Homo sapiens: one gene and its partner. The gene in region 2 interacts genetically with the main gene of each other region. Each region holds a gene or a part of one and is shown on either strand. Other genes may lie near its edges.

The links. Genes that interact genetically often act in the same process or in processes that back each other up.
Region 1: changes in FRS2 (region 2) and RB1 together harm fitness more than expected from each alone (negative genetic interaction), as found in Homo sapiens cells (one large-scale study listed by BioGRID).

The regions. Positions count from the first base shown.
Region 1 is NC_000013.11:48,474,751-48,479,214, reverse strand, and holds part of RB1 (retinoblastoma-associated protein), read right to left. Parts: intron 2,766-4,464; exon of another isoform or gene 2,693-2,765; intron 2,515-2,692; coding exon 2,372-2,514; intron 1,861-2,371; coding exon 1,811-1,860; intron 1-1,810. UniProt on the Homo sapiens protein: Tumor suppressor that is a key regulator of the G1/S transition of the cell cycle. The hypophosphorylated form binds transcription regulators of the E2F family, preventing transcription of E2F-responsive genes.
Region 2 is NC_000012.12:69,475,984-69,481,411, reverse strand, and holds part of FRS2 (fibroblast growth factor receptor substrate 2), read right to left. Parts: intron 1,114-5,428; exon of another isoform or gene 1,053-1,113; intron 1-1,052. UniProt on the Homo sapiens protein: Adapter protein that links activated FGR and NGF receptors to downstream signaling pathways.

The DNA of each region.
Region 1 (4,464 bases), on a different chromosome or scaffold from region 2:
GCTCTGTTGCCCAAGCTGGAGTGCAGTGGCATGATCATGGCTCACTACAGCTTTGACCTTCTGGGCTCAAGCAATTCTCTCACCTCAGCCTCTCCAGTAGCCAAGACTACAGGCACATGCCACCAGGCCTGGCTAATTTTTGGATTTTTTTGTAAAGATGGGGTCTTGCTATGTTGCCCAGGCTGGTCTTGAACTCCTGGCCTCAAGCAATCCTCTCACCTTGCCCTCCCATAGTGCTGGTATTACAGACATAAGCCATCATGCCTACCCGGGGCATGGCCATGTTAAAAGCATATTATGAATTACAATATAGACAAAGCCGGGATACTTATTAAATTTCTTAAAAATTCTTAACTTGATTTTAGAGGTAGGCATGAGTTCTTTATAAAGAAGCACATTTGGAAAAATGGAATGCCCTTCCATTCTGGGCAATCCAGCATTGTATGATGATCTTTTCTAAATGTAATTCTTTAAGAAAAGCTGAAGAGCATCCTAAAGAAATGCCTTAGCCTCAGGGGTTAAAATTCTGCCTGCTTTGTCACAATTTTGTAGATGCACAAAGGTCCTGAACTTTGGCCTGGCAGAGGAAGCTCGCCATCATAGCTAAGTGTGTCACTGGGAAATGTACTAACTATAGCAACTGAACACTTCTCTAAGAAAATATACATGTTTTTACAGCTTTCAGCTCCTTTTTAAGTGCATATTTGTGGGTTCCAAAATGTTTCCATATGTCTTCAAGGCCTGATTTTGGTTATGAGCCTCTTGTCTATTTTCATGTACTGAGGGGAAAAGATGCAACTATTTAAGAGTTAAAATAGGAATATGTAAGTTGACATAAAATCCAAAAAGAGATTCATTTATAACTAGAAAATTTTGTTTTAGTTATTTAGTTTTAATTACACTTTAAAAAAATACATAGAAAAAAAGCATCCTTTTAAATATCTTATTTTCAAAGTTAGTATCTACAAAGATGTATTAAAAGAAAGCCTCTCATTTTAATTGGTATTGTTCTCATTAGTGTGTCCTGTGACCTAGGAATGATTGTTTTAACACCTATCTCCTGAATATTTGTCTTCTTTCAAAATCCCAGTTCCTTTTCCTATCAATGGATCTGGCAGCAGATACTGGGAAATGTTACACTCACTACCATAACTACCTAAGACAACCCAATAGTAGTTAGTGAACATTTATCTCTTTCCTAATGTGCTTTCCATCTACTATCCTTGGATTATTTTTTTTGTCTAGTCTCAGAGTAGTTTTGAATAGAATTCCACTTACCCTAACATGATATCACTCTGTATAACTTGGAAAATGACATAAGTGTTCTTTATTAAAATTCTGATTTCCAGTAATGGAAACTTTTGTTTGAAATTGTTTTAAGATTTGCAAATAAGGAAAGTTTAAAAATGGTAGAATCAAAGGTTATTCCTTAAATAAGGGTGATGATGTTTACATATGCTAGGTTTATAAAACTTTTCCCTATATCTAACACTCCCAAATAGCTCCTCTTTGTAGTTCTGCTAAAGTATTTTCTAACTGTAGCCATTTGTGTTGAATGTGGTCAAGCAATGTTTCACTTCTTAGTCTTCCTGCATGAAAGATCATAGAAAGGGTAAAAATGACCTTCATTTTACATCATACATTTAATCCACAAATGTTTGTAGATAAATAACCTTGATTGAATTATATTTTAAATGCATAAACAAACCTGCCAACTGAAGAAATTATACATTCTTTTATATAACGAAAAGACTTCTTGCAGTGTAAACAATTGTTTATTTCATTTACACAAGGTGAAAAAAGTACTTACTCATTTCTGCCAGTTTCTGCTGAAATTTGGACTCTCCTGGGAGATGTTTACTGCAGATTAAAAAAATGCAAAACATTTCATGTGTATTTATAAATGGAAAACTCAAATTTCCAGTAACTATGATGCTTTCGATGACTTACTTTATGCTATTATTTTAGTGAGTAGCTTTTAATTTTAAAATTTAAAAACTAACCATCTAAAACATAAATGTCACAAATTTATGATGCTATGTATTTTTTCAGTGGTTCTCACAAAATACAGTGGTTAATATTTTTCAAGAGTAAACATTTTTAAATTTAATGTTAAGAATAACAAAATTTTATCAATAGCTTTGTAAAAAAGATCAGGGTTTATTAGATATCTTCACTGAATGTTGGTATGCAATTTGTAAGATGTTTTTAACTTTGCACTACACTCATATCTATTATTTTGAGCCATTCTCACAACTTCCAAATAAACTTGGCATGAAAGAAATTGGTATAAGCCAGGAGCAGTGCTGAGACTCTGGATTCCCCAGATGACCATCTCGGCTACTGGAAAACATTCAAAACTGGTTCCTACCTTCCATCTGCTTCATCTGATCCTTCAATATCAAAGCGTAGTTTTTTCAGTGGTTTAGGAGGGTTGCTTCCTTCAGCACTTCTTTTGAGCACACGGTCGCTGTTACATACCATCTGATTTATTTTCTGGAACTTCTCAGAAGTCTACAAATTACAGAATTCTTTACTTTAAATCATTAAATGCCAGTGTTTCATAGTTAGCAACCTCAAGTTATAGTTTGAGGTGTGTCAAAAATCAGGCAAAGGTAATAACTTCATTTAAATTTTCTGCTTCATTGGACCAAATAAAAGATATGAAAAATCTAAAAATCAGAATAACTACCTAATTCCATCCCCAATTAAACACCCACTCTTTGTAAATCCTCCTGTCTTTTCCCATGCAGCTCACATTCTTCCTCCAGCAACTGCCTACTCTGCAAGTCCTGGTTCCTCATTTTCAGAACCCACCATACAGGACTACTTTTCAGAAGTAGGCAAGTCAGAACAGCTTTCTGGAAACTTGCTTTTGTCCTTTTTTTGTTTTTTAGGCTATTATACAACCAGAAGGAAGGTCACAAGAATTTGATAAGAGATGATGTGTTCAATGAATAATAATTTTTGATTCACTTTATGGGTATTATGTTGACAAGTCATATAGACTTTCTGATAGAAATTATATCTGATTTGACGGATAGATTCAACAGTGAGGATTAGCTTTGCCAATTATACTTTATTTTCCAAAAATTAAACTAGCGAATTCTCCCAATATTAAATTCAAAACAGGTTTTGATGGTAAATCTATTTGGAGCACATATACAATTTAACAAAAACTAAATCCCGTGCTGCTATTAAATGTATAATATTTTAAATTATCAGCTTTAAGATATGGAAGTACATTCAACTTTTTCCCAATTATTTTAGAGGTTATGGCAAGCAAAAATGTTTGAAGACCACTATGTGATACCTAGCCAGTTCCAACTGTCCTTATAAGGTCCCATAGCTCCTTTGTAAAGTCTGACAGCTGAGCCCATCGTGAACTATTTGTAACACACATTTTAATATTTGGTCATCTGGCATATAAACTTTTACCTCTCCCTAGTTACTTGAGGCAGTGTGGTGGGCAGCCTCTCAGATGGCTCCCAATGACCCCACCTCCTGGTATTCACCTCCTTGTGTGATCCTCCTCCCCTCGTGTGTGGGCTAGATCTACTGTTGTCTTGCTTCTAACCAAAATAATATGCCAAAAGTAATGGGCTGTCATTTCCAGAATTAGATTACAATAAGACTGTGACCTCTCTCTTGCTCTTTATTTCCCTGCCTCCCTCAGAGTCCCTGCTCTGGGCAAAGCAAGCTGCCATGTTGTGAATAGCAAGCAGTACTATGGAGGGGCCCAAGGGCAAGAAACCAATAGAGGGGCCAATAGCCATCGAGGATCAGCCAACAGCCATTTGAATAAGTCTGCCAGTGAATGCTCCTCTAGTGGAGCCTTGAGATGACTGCAGGCCCAGCCCAACTGACACCTTGATCACAGACTTTGGAGAAACTCTGGCCCAGCTAAGTCATGCCTAGATTATTGACCCACAGAAATGGAGATAATAAGCGTTTGTTTTAAGTCACTAAGTTTGGGGGTAATGTATTATGTAGCAACACATAACATAGGCAGTCTTCCCATTCCTATAAGAATATAAGCTCTCTGGCCAGGTGCAGTGGCTCACATCTGTAATCCCAGTTCTTTGGGAGGCTGAGACGGGGTATCGTGGAAGCCAGGAGTTCAATACCAATCTGGCCAACATAGAAAACCCTGTCTCTACAAAAAATTTAAAAATTAGCTGGACATGGTGGTGCATGCCTGTAGTCCTGGCAACTTGGGAGGCTAAGGTGAGAGGACTGCTTGGGCCGAGGAGTTTGAGGTTATAATAAGTAGGTGACAGAGTGAGACACTGTCTCTAAAAATAAAAATTTAAAAATTAAAAATATAAGCTCTCAGGGGAATGGAGATGGTGCAACATATTAACAGTAATGCATATTGAATATGGGACTGCTGAATTAGTGACTTTAATGGAAGGCCAACTAGGGTTGTGGATTTGCAGCCTAGAATAAATGTTTCAAAGCAAA
Region 2 (5,428 bases):
TTCCAGCTACAAGAGAGGCATGAGTATCTCTTGAGCCTAGGAGTTCAAGGTTGTAATGAGTTGTGATTGTGCCACTGCACTCCAGCCTGGATAACAGGAAGAGACTTTATCTCAAAAAAAAAAAAAAAAATTCTGGAATTTGGACTTTCATGATGGTACTGTGATTATCTTAAGAGAATACTCTTATTCTTAGGAAATACACCCTGAGGTAAAAGGCATACAATCTACTCTTCAATGGTTCACAAAAAAATAAATGTGTGTATGCAAAAAGAAAAATATGGCAAAATATTAAAAATTAGTGACTATGGATAAAGGGTATACAGAGGTCTACTGCACTATTCTTGCAACTTTCCTGTAAGTTTGAAATTATTTCAAAATAAAACGTTTAAGAAAATAGGACACTATTCTCCAGGCGGTTACTTATAAGCTCTAAGGAATAAAATTTTTAAGTACTACTAAAAATCACTCTGCAAAACTAACATAAAGTTACGAGAACTTCACAGTCAAAAATTACAAGACAAGAAGGCGTGGCACCATAAGCAACAGCCAGCAGAAACAAACAGCAGAATCATGTCTGCAAAGACTTCAGATACTGGATTATCAGGCACAAAATGTAAAGTAAGTATATTTAATAGATTTTTAAGAAATAAAAGAAATATTGAGAACATAACCAAGAAAAGGAATAAGACTACCCAAAAAAAGGATGATAGTCTTAAGAAGGAACTGAATAAAATGTCTAGAAACAAAAATATATAGTAAATGAAATTTTTAAAAACCCAATGGCCAGGTGCAGTGGCACATGCCTGTGCTCCCAGATACTTGGGAAGCTGAGACAGGAAGATGGCTTGAGTTCAGAAATTTGAGGTTGTAGTGTGCTATGATCGCCGCTATGAAGAGTCACTGCACTCCAGCCTGGGCAATATAGCAACACCCCATCTCTAACATAAATTTGTAAAACTCAAAGAACATGCTATAACATAGACTAACCTAGAAAACATGCTAAGTAAAATAAACCAGACACAAAAAGACAAATATTTTATGATTCCACTTACATGAAGTACCTAGAATAGTCAAATTTGTAGAGGCAGAAACTCAAATAGTGGTTGCCAGGAGCTAGAGAAAAGAGGAAATAAGGAATTACTGTCTAATGGGTACAAGTTTTGGTTCACGATGATGAAAAAGTTCTGGAGATCAGTAGTGGTGACAGATGCACAATGATGTGAATGCACTTAATGCCACCGAACTGTACACTTAAAAATGGTTAAATGGTAAATTCTATGTTATATGTATTTAACCATAATGAAAAAAATGGGCATAATAGTTAAATAAAAAGTTTTTAAATTCAATAAACTGGTTGAACACAGCTGAAGAGAGAAGTAGCTAACTTCAAGAAAAGTATCCAGAACACAATACAATACACAAAGATAATGAAATGGACAATATAAAAGACAGGTTAAGAGACACGGAGGTAGAGTAAGAAGATCTAACATACTTCAAATACAAGTTCCAAACAGAAAATATGGAAGACAAAATTTAAGAAAAAGGCCAAAAATTCTCCAAAATTGTTGAAAGACACTAATCTTCAGATTTGAAAACCTAGTTAATACCAAGCACGATAAATAAAAAGAAATCAACTTCCAAACATAAAAATGAAAATGCAGATCACCAAGAACAAAGTAGCAGTTCTAAAACTAGCCATAAAGAAACAACAGATTAGTCCAGGCACAGTGGCTTGCACCTGTAATCCCAGCATTTTGGGAGGCTGAGGCAGGTGGATCATGAGGTCAGGAGATGGAGACCATCCTAGCCAACATAGTGAAACCCCATCTCTACTGAAAATACAAAAATTAGCCAGGCGTGGTGGTACACACCTGTAATCCCAGCTACTCAGGAGGCTGAGGCAGGAGAATTGCTTGAACCCAGGAGGCAGAGGCTGCAGTGAGCTGAGATCGCGCCACTGCACTCCAGCCTGGCAACAGAGCAAGACTGGTCTCAAAAAAAAAGAAAAAAAAAAAAAAAAAGAAACAACAGATTAACTGTAAAGGACTGTCAATCACACTGTGTATTTTTCAACAGCAATAAAAGCCAGAAGATAATGAAATAAAATCTATAATGAACAAAGAAAAAACAACTGCTAATCTAGAATATATATTCAGGAAAACCAGTTTCAGGAATGAGACTAAGAAAAAGTTATTTTCCAACAAAAAGTTTTCCAACACACCCTCCCTAGGGAAAATTCTAAAAGATGTACTTCACACAAAGAAAAATGGTCCTAGATCAGAGGTCTCAGATGCAAATGAGAATAAGCAGACATCTGCAAATACAGTGTATAGGCAAATCAAAGTAACAGTGTTTAAAACAAAAGTATCTCATTTGTTGGAGGTCAGGGAGAACTAAAATAAAGCTACACAGAGTTTAACTTCCAAACTTCAAGACAGAGGGAAATGTTAAAAAAAAAAAAAAGACATTCATATAAAATTAAAACAAAAAGCAAGGTAATGATTAATATAAAATTCAGATGGCGGTTACTTAAAGAGTATGTCAGAGATCACAAGTAGTGAGAAACATGAACGGCCATCAAAGGTGCTGGCAGTGTTCTGTTTTTTAAAGTGGTTGGTCATACATGGTAGTTCATTATATAATTCTTTACACACACACACACACACACACACACACACACACACACATAATGATGTATGTCTTTGTAAGAATAAAAGTAAATTCTGAAAATCAATATAGAAGAAAAAAATTCAAAAATCTATGGCTCCTCCCCAAAAATTTAGAATACTTCACAAACACTGGTCTTCAAAATTCAAAGAAAAAGATGAATTATTTCATTCAACAAATACTTACTGAGTGCCTAATCTGCCTACATGTGAGGTGAGAGGTGTCATGAAGATGTGTGATCTCTCTTCTCTCTCGTCTTCCTAACCTTATAGAGCTGCACTAATACAGTAGCCACCAGCCCCATGTGGGTATTCATATTTAAATTAATTAAAATTAAATTCAATTAAAAATTTAGTTCTCCTATAACACTAGATATATTTTAAGTGCTCAGAAGCTATATAGGGGCCACCATATTGAACAGCATAGACATAGAACATTTCCATCATTTCAGAAAGCTCTTAGTACTACCATATTTTATTATGATAGAAATACATTGATAATTTTAAAATCTTAAATAGAAAAAAAAATTTTAACGGATTAAATCCCCCTTAAAAGTCATTTTATTTCTATGAAACTACAGCTTCTTAGTAGTATTTAAAACAGCTTGCTATTTATTAAAAATACATAGGAAGTATCAGAAATTGTTTACCATCTCCTATGTTCCAACAAAAACCATCAGACACAGGGTTTAAAAATAAATAAACAGCCGGGCGCGGTGGCTCACACCTGTAATTCCAGCACTTTGGGAGGCCGAGGTGGGCGGATCACAAGGTCAGGAGATTGAGACCATCCTGGCTAACATGGTGAAACCCCGTCTCTACTAAAAAATACAAAAAATTAGCCGGGCGTGGTGGTGGGCGCCTGTAGTCCCAGCTATTCGGGAGGCTGAGGCAGGAGAATGGCGTGAACCCAGAAGGCGGAGCTTGCAGTGAGCCAGGATCATGCCACTGCACTCCAGCCTGGGCAACAGAGCGAGACTCTGTCTCAAAAAATAAATAAATAAATAAATAAATAAATAAATAAATAAATAAATAAGCTACTATTAAATATTTAAGCACAGTACTACTAACCAGTGATAAAGCCATGTCATAGGGATATAAAAAGCCGCAGGATGAACACTGCACTCTCTCTTAGGAGCATCAATTTTAGTTAAGAGTATTTTAGGCCGGGCGCGGTGGCTCACGCCTGTAATCCCAGCACTTTGGGAGGCCGAGGCAGGCAGATCACGAGGTCAGGAGATTGAGACCATCTTGGCTAACACGGTGAAACCCCGTTTCTACTAAAAATACAAAAAATTAGCCAGGCGTGTTGGCGGGCGCCTGTAGTCCCAGCTACTGGTGAGGCTGAGGCAGGAGAATGGCGTGAACCCAGGAGAGGCGGAGCTTGCAGTGAGCTGAGATCGCGCCACTGCACTCCAACCTGGGGGACACAGCGAGACTCCGTCTCAAACCAAAAAAAAAAAAAAAAAAAAAGTATTTTAAAATACTGTCGACATGCATGTAAGATAGCAAAATGCAACATTTATATAAATTTTAAAATATAAAACCCTACAGGCATCAAAAACTTCAATTTATAGCAGGCACACTTTGGGCTGCATTCCTAGACTTCTGAGGGTACTATTCATCCACATTTCTGCCATTGGGAGTACTTTAAGAGAAAAATTTAAGCACTGTTAAAATAAATGAATTAAACATTTTTTATTTACCAGCAACAATGATACACAACATAACTCTATAAACCCATATCATTTTAATATCTAAAGCAGCAAACCCACAGTTTTCTTTAAAATTAACAGAGGGTCCAAGCTATTTCTACTTAACCTGAACATTTTGCCTTGGACATTCTAATAGAATTTAAATATTTCTATAGCATTCCCAACTTTTAAAATTACGCAACCAAAAACACTCAAAAGAAACAAATGTTAAGCCTTAATTTAACAGTCACCTAGGCTAGGTTTGCACCTTAAGTTCCCCACCCCCACACCCCCCCCCGTCCCTCCCCCACAGCCGCCTGCCCACCCAAGTGAACCAGGGAGTCAATAAGCTCCTCATCTAGACAACTGATGCAATTTCAATAAGCACTTATGTTCATAATTGGTTTGTGTCCCCAGGAGGACTTCTGTGACTCCACTTACATAACCCATTACGCACAGTGCTGCACTATTCTTTCTCTAGAAAGCATTTTGAATACTGATATTTGTACAAGGTTTACTTGCTGTATTAATAAAAAGGCTTTTCTTGCTCTATCTTTCCTGCAGAAGAAGTGAAATGGAAAGCCAATTTCTGCTGCTTCACTATGTCAAAGGCGAGTTATTTATCTTGTTGGCTAATCAACAGAGTAATAACTTAAAGCAGCACCCCCAGGCAGCGCCCACAGTTCAACAGTTTTCTCCAGAGGCTCTGGTTGAGAAACACAGTCTTAAACAAGTAATTTAGAGCTACTTGTGTGAACTCAACTGAAAACAGTCTGAACTGCTCCTTGAAATATGTTATAAGTATTGACTGTGAATCTTGACAAAATTAAATTCAATGGTGGCGAGAATCACAATACGTCCTCTGTAGGCTAACACAAGGGCAGAATGTACCCCAAACCTTCTTTAATATGCATAAATATGTGGATGAATAGTCTCCTCCAATCCCTCAGATTCTGTTTAAGCCAAGATTTTCGGATTTCACAGAACCATAATCTTTAAAAAGGGGCACGAGGAAGGAGAGGGTGACCAGCATAGGGCTGCCAACTTTTATTCTGCCAAGGACATTTA